2 separate regions of the Homo sapiens genome follow, and region 1 is reported to be linked to region 2. The links are microRNA targets in miRTarBase. Many come from high-throughput screens and were not tested one by one. Region 2 holds a microRNA gene; the other region holds the end of a gene's coding sequence.

Region 1 (3,353 bases), not on the chromosome of region 2:
AGTTGTGACACCTGGTGGTGGTCTTGTAATTGCCCACGGCTTTTCCCTCTCCTCTGGACTCTGGCCTCCTCCCTCCCTCTGTGGCCCTAGCACCTGGCAGATGCATTGGATGGGCAGCAGGCACTCAGAACATGTTTTTATAATGAATTCCTCAACCAAGGGAACTAAGGGACTTGCTGTTTCCTTACTGTCACCTGGGATTCTTTTTGCTGTTTTCTACTTTCTGATTGCTTTTCTTCCTGCTAATTCAGTTTCATCTTCTCTTTTCAGATGAAGCTACTAAACTTATACATAAAGAGGGCCCAGACCACCAACAGCAACAGCAGCTCCTCCTCCGATGTCTCCACGCACAGCTAATGGCAGTACCTGTCTCTTGTGTAGACCTAGAAGCAATCGGTGGTGCCTCTCAGAGACCTTTCCCCACCCCCTTCATCGGCTGCCCAGTCAGTACAAGGAGGCCCACAAATATTTATTACAATCAGTATTTTGGTCCCTTCCAGCTTTTCTGTAGAATCTTACTGGTATTGAATGTAAAGGAAGCAAGGCCTGTATTGCAGTCTTCATACAAAACAAAAGGAATAAGAACAGAAAAGAGCCATACTGAAACATGTCTTGTACAGCCTGCTGAGATGGCGAAACCCTGTGTGTGGGGTGCAGTTTTTAAAAATCAGAGCGCTCTAGCCACTACTTGGTAGAAAGTAGCATTTTTTTTTTCAGTTAATAACATATTTGGGGGTGGGGTGGGGTGTTACTTTGTGTTCTTCCTCCTTAGCCTATTTTCTTGTGCGTATGGTCTGTGTGGGGCCCCTTTCACAGCTGACACCACGAAAGGTGATATATCTTTAAGTTGTGTTCTGAGACCTACTAAAAATGGGAATCAAGTCTTGGCAAGAACAGTCTGAAGATGGCCTTTTAACAAACGCTGGGAATTTTGCTTGTCATATCCAGACTGGAGGCCGACTGCCCTGGCTTTCAGCGTAGAATTGGGAGTGCACCCTGACAGTCTCCTTCCAGCTCTCCCTAATCGACTCCACCGACAAGGTCCCTACCCCAGAGCTTCCATGCAAAGGAATTCTTCAAGTTTAAATCTGGACACAAAAATAAGATAAATGTATGGCATCATTTAGGGATGCCTGAGATGGCAGTTCATGAAGCACAGAAGATAAAGAAGAAGTCTTTCATCTTTACTGCTGAGATCCTTGGGAACACTGTTGTCATGGGGGCTCTGCCAAGACCCTCATCTCTGGGCTACACGGTGATTCAGATTGAGCACCAACTTGTTTCCTCCCCTCAAAGTTCTGCCTAAGCCGTTCAGTTCTAACATGGTCTCAGTTAATCTGGTAAATGGCATCTTTACCATCTTAGTTCTGACTTCTCAGTTTAATGTGGGATTAAGAGCCAAGAAAAGCCTAGAGAGACTGGATATCACAATTTTTTTTAATTTTATAAACTGAAGTAGTTCCTTGAATGTCTGTTGATGAAATAGTCACTGTTTAAGGAAAAAAGTAATTATGAGGTGTAGCAGATTGCAGAAAAACAGGATTAGAAACACACTTAAAAAGAACACACATTTAGAGTCTCTCTTCCTCCTCAGCGAACCACTAGGCCCCCTTTTTAAAAACACCTTTAGAGCCTAATTACTCCAATAAAAGTAACTAGAGGTTTGGAGTCTGGTTAAATAAATTCTGAGTAAAATTCTTAAGCCAAATGGAAATTCTTAATGCAATCATGAGGACTTCTATTGTCTCTTACTGTTGTATTAGATCCTATAAATTGAACTGATTTTTCCATAAGGAAAATGCTTCTTTTGAGATTAATTCTAATAACGTATTTGCTATTGCAGTGCAGAGCCCACTGCAACTGCTAGGACTGAAAGCAGAGGCTGGGTGCCAGAGCACGTGATTCTTAACATCATTTCCACAGACCCCTCTGCCCTGACCCTCTGCATTGGATGCAGGAAGCTGGGAAAGACTGATGTTGATTTGGAAACATGGGCTGAAAATGAAGGCCCCATAGTGCATAGGAACAGTAAAGCCAGGGTGCTGACGTGTGTGTGTGTGTGTGTGTGTGTGTGTGTGTGTGTGTGGTGTTGTGTGTGTTTGTGCGTGCACCCTACACATGTGTGGTACCTCACTGCTGCTGTTTAGGGAACTTGAGGGACGCGTTTCAAGGGGTTGGGTATTACTGACGAGCTTTGGCTCAAAATATAGCAGGACCAGGTCTTTTGTTGATAAGTACTGTTTGTTTATTAATATGTCATTAATGGTATTTCTTTTTTACACTCTACAAGTGAATTAGGGAGTCTCTTGTTGACCCCTTTGTTGCAGGAATGTGCGTCGGGCTAGGTTATCCATGAGTTTCTTTATTCCTAATGCAGTTAGAAAGACCTTTCTCCTTGAGCTCTTTGACTCCCAGAAGGTACCCCAGTCCCCAGTGTACTTAGAAAGGATCTCGAACATTGCTGGACGTCCTCATAGTACTCACAAAGGGCTAGCCTTGAATGTCACTCGCCCAGTCTTCAGTCTCCTGACTTAGAGATACAATCACGTCACAGGTCTCTTGGCCTCAATCTGAAAACTGCTGCCGCCGCGCCGAGGAGACTCGCATGCCGCCACCACCTCACTGGGAGGGCGCCGAGCCCACCGTCGCCCCCTAGACCCTGACAGCTGCAGCTGCCTTGCCTTGCCGCCGCCTCCCTGCAGGGCCCCTGTTCCAATGAAAAACAGAACACAAAAGAGCAGAGCACCTAAGCCTGTCTCTGCCTCCCTGTCTACCGGACTGGCCAGGGCCCAAGACCCCCGCTGCTCCACTGCGGGGCTGGGCGGGCTGACTCCCTGCTTCCTCCAAGCTGCTGCCTCCCCTGCAGCCAGGGTCTGGGCAGGGTGCAGCCGGTCCTCGGGGCACGCAGCTTCCTTCAAGTACACTGTGTGTGCTTCCCGGACCTGCGGCGATGCCACGGGCCTGCCTTTTCTATGCGCCTCACTAGCTTACCACCCTGTGCAGGTAATGCAACTGACTTTGTCTCATCAGTCTTTTTCTTTCCCTGCCACCCTTTATTTATCAAGCGTAATGTTACACTTTAAAGGACAGCAAATAAGAACTTTGTAGAATCCCACCAGGACTTTGCTAACAATAATGTTTGGAAATAAAGAAGTGCTCTGAAAAAATATCAGCCACCAAAATAGTTATGTTGGCACTGTGTTCACACGCATGGTCCCCACACCCCCAGGTTGGGTGGGTTTTTTTGTTTTTTGGGTTTTTTTGGGGGGGGGGGCTTTTTCATGTTACATCCATATCTGTATTTATATCTTATTTGTTTCACTTTCAAGTGTATCATGGCAAATGTACAGATT
Region 2 (3,420 bases):
TCATCCTAAAAAGTCCCTCCTAAGTTTCTCTTTCAGACTGTCTCTTTCCTTTGATAGGCAAGAGCTTTCTTCATTTTCTCGCCTATTTTTAAATTATTCAGCTTCACCTTTGCTTTTATTTTCTCATCTAATTCTTAATTATTCAGCCCTCCGCATTCTATCTTCTGCCCACATTGCCATCCATGAACTCCTCCTGCTAATGTCGCTAGTGACTGCCAACTAAAATCCATTTCTCCCTTCAGTCCTTACCTTATTTCTCCTTTCTACAGCACTTGACCAGGTTGGTCAACTTTTTCATTGAAACCATCTCTTCTGTGGGCTTTCACAACACTGCTTTTTCTCTGTTCTACACCATCACTATTTTTCTTTTAATTTTTACACTTCCCTCGTCTTTTCTGAAATGTTTGATGTCCTCCCCACCCCCAGTTTCCAGCCTCAGTAGTTGTCTTGTATTCTGCTTGTGTTCTCTAGATTATTAAATGTATTCTTGTGGTTTCAGTTACCATCCATATGCAGACACCTTTCATCTTGAGAGCCAGGCTTATATATACAAATGGCTGCTGCACATTAACCTATCACTAATGGCTCTTTAAACTCAAAATAACCAACAATGGAGTCATTGTCTCTATCTCTGAAATAGAACACACTACCCTCCCCCACTTCTTCCCCTTTTTACCCTGTGGCAACAACCTTTTGCTATCCTGATTTTAAGCAGGCTGCAGCATCATAATAAATGATACATAATATCTGCCTTTAAAATGCCTGTAGTGGTTAAGAGGGAGGGCTCTGACATTACATGGATTTGAAACACAATTCAAATGCTTATAAGGTTTATGATTTGGGGCAAAGGAATTATTAATCCATCTGTCCTTTAGTTTCCTCATCTATAAAATGGAGGTAATAGTAGTATAGACCTCATAGGGTTCTTAAGAGGATTAAATGGAATGATAATACATGCACAGCATTTTACAGTGTTAAGTTCATTAAGTTAACAAATGCTTCATATTATTTGCCGTTACAGTCCATATAATAACATGCTGCCTTCAGGCCAATATATATAAGCCTATAATTCTTGGAAGACTATGGAAATCCTATCATATATTAAATTGTCATTTTTTTTAAGACTAAGAAAAATTTATGTAAAGTCCAAAAGTACAGCTGTTTACAGGGGACGAACTGATCCACAAGGCCACAGTCTACCCTCATCAGTTAGTGTCCATCACTGAAGTGGAATAACTCAAAAGGAAAAGGTAACTCAACGAGCCATCCATTTCCCACATAGAATCACAACAGAAGACAGAAAATATGGAGTGGAATGTTGAATCAGCTGCTGTTGGGAGACCCTGGTCTGCACTCTATCTGTATTCTTACTGAAGGGAGTGCAGGGCAGGGTTTCCCATACAGAGGGCACAGACTACCACCGTATGGCAAATGTTGACTGGAACTCAACTTCAAAGCCATTTCACCTGGAATCTTACCCCACCACCCCAATGCTTCATGAAAATTCAACTGATCCTCTTCTATGAAGAAACTCAATCCTGATAAGTCTCTTTAGTAGTTATTGAAATGTCTTTGTAACTCTCTTATAGTCAGGTTCAGTAAGAATGTTAAGTTTCTAATTGAGCTTTTCTTTCTGAACAGTTATTTTGTGTATGTTTATTTTCTGTTTACCAATGTAATATATGTTCTTTGCAGAAAAATTGGAAAATACAAAAAGGTATCTACAAAGTCCCCCAACCAAGAGAAAACCAATATTAATGTTCTGTTATAGATCCTTGTAGTGGCTAGCTGGAATTCGTGTATATCTCTCTCTCTCTGTCTTTGTCTTTCTTTCTCTCTCTCTCTCTATATATATACATATATTCCAAATATACATTTTTATGTAATATATATGTATATTATATATGTATACATATATTCCAAATATACATATATATCTTCATGTAATATATACGTATTTTATATATATGTATAAATACATAATATACATATATAACCTAATATATGATATAGCATAATATATGTATACACATATATGTGTACATATATAAAATACATATATATTACATAAAGATATATATGTACATTTGGAATAACTATGCATACCATGTTTCAAACCTGCTGTTTACTCGTTATTATGACTATTCCTCTATATATTAAAATATTATTCTTAATCTACATTTTAGTGGTTGAATAGTAATAATCTATTTAGTTTGTTCTCTGTTTATTTGTTTTTGTTTTTGGGAACAAGGAACTGTTCACACCTAAATGTGTACAACCTTTATGTCTAGATCAGGCACTTGAATTCTTAAAAAAGTGTTAGGAAATGGAATAATGATCTTTTATTTATAAGTTGTATATGTTTCTGTATTCTGTTCATATATGATAATTGAAATAGACCTATATCTAACACTTTAAAATTTATAGTATTTTCATCTTTATTTCCTCATTTGATCCCTGCTACACCTTGTGAGATAGAGAAGGGCTTATTATTCTGTCCTTATAGATAAGGAAACTTATGTCCAGAAAGATGAAGTGGTTTTCCAAAAGACACGTAGCTAATAAATAATTGACAACATTGGAATTTGGAATTAGAAAGCAAGTCTTGTGACTCCTAACCAATACTCTTTCCAGTACACTTTGCCATGTCCCAACTTCACTTTCTTTAAGTGCTTCTTTCTAGCACCTCTTATTCAATTATTGTCATACGTACTTTTTGGATCATACCTTAGGAGAATGTAGCTTTCTCATGAATTTCCTCATTAGCTGACAACTGAATATGGCTAGATTTTAACAATAAAAACACATTTTTTTCTTTTCAGGAATGCAAATACACAGTGTATTATATGTAGAAAAAACTCTCAGATATTGGATCCTTATTGATGAGGCTTATGAGATAATATAGCAACTCAGACTTTTCTCAGGAAGAAGAAAATCCATGTCTTTTGTTGGACAGTTTAGAGAGTCTAGACTACCATCATTCAGCATTTGAACATTTTGATTTCAAAATGTAGACAATTGAAGAAATACAATGTAAATGCCAGGGAATTAAATCATAGGACAAAAACTCCCTATGAAAACATCTTAGTGATAGCATACATGTTAAAATTTTTGAAAACACTGGGAATGGTTTCACTTCTCATCTGAGTATCTGAGAAACAGATGATTATGTACCTCCCAGCCCTGTGTCAGCCCTAATTTAGTTGATGGCATTATTGCTCCCTGCTTTCTTTTTTTTCTCTTTATAGCAGATTGCTATTCTTTTTTACTTTAAAATAGCACCTTTTGCTGCCCTGTCTTATCCTTGTGCTCTTTTAAAAAGTGGTCAGGCACACACTTTTGTCACTAGTTTTACATGAGGGTAGGGGCTTTCTCTTTTCTTTTCAAAAATTAAGTGCCACTACATCTCAGTTAAACTGC

What was found. The annotated mature microRNA hsa-miR-504-5p reads AGACCCUGGUCUGCACUCUAUC and lies in region 2 at 1,339-1,360, shown strand. An mRNA with a match to its seed (bases 2 to 7 or 8) in the 3' UTR can be bound and repressed. Matches are read on the target gene's strand: a 7mer-m8 pairs with bases 2 to 8, a 7mer-A1 pairs with bases 2 to 7 and ends in A, and an 8mer does both.
Region 1: the mRNA of CLASP1 is a reported target of hsa-miR-504-5p. Seed matches in the 3' UTR shown: 7mer-m8 at 2,868-2,874.

The regions. Positions count from the first base shown.
Region 1 is chr2:121,337,865-121,341,217 of GRCh38, reverse strand. It overlaps CLASP1 (cytoplasmic linker associated protein 1), which reads left to right. Exons shown (of 41, transcript NM_001395891.1): 41 at 271-3,353. The coding sequence ends at 357. Among named protein-coding and RNA genes, the nearest start is that of TFCP2L1, 54 kb to the right of the region's middle.
Region 2 is chrX:138,665,700-138,669,119 of GRCh38, reverse strand. It overlaps MIR504 (microRNA 504), which reads left to right and starts at 1,327; the gene lies at 1,327-1,409. All of the region lies in intron 3 of FGF13 (fibroblast growth factor 13), which reads left to right.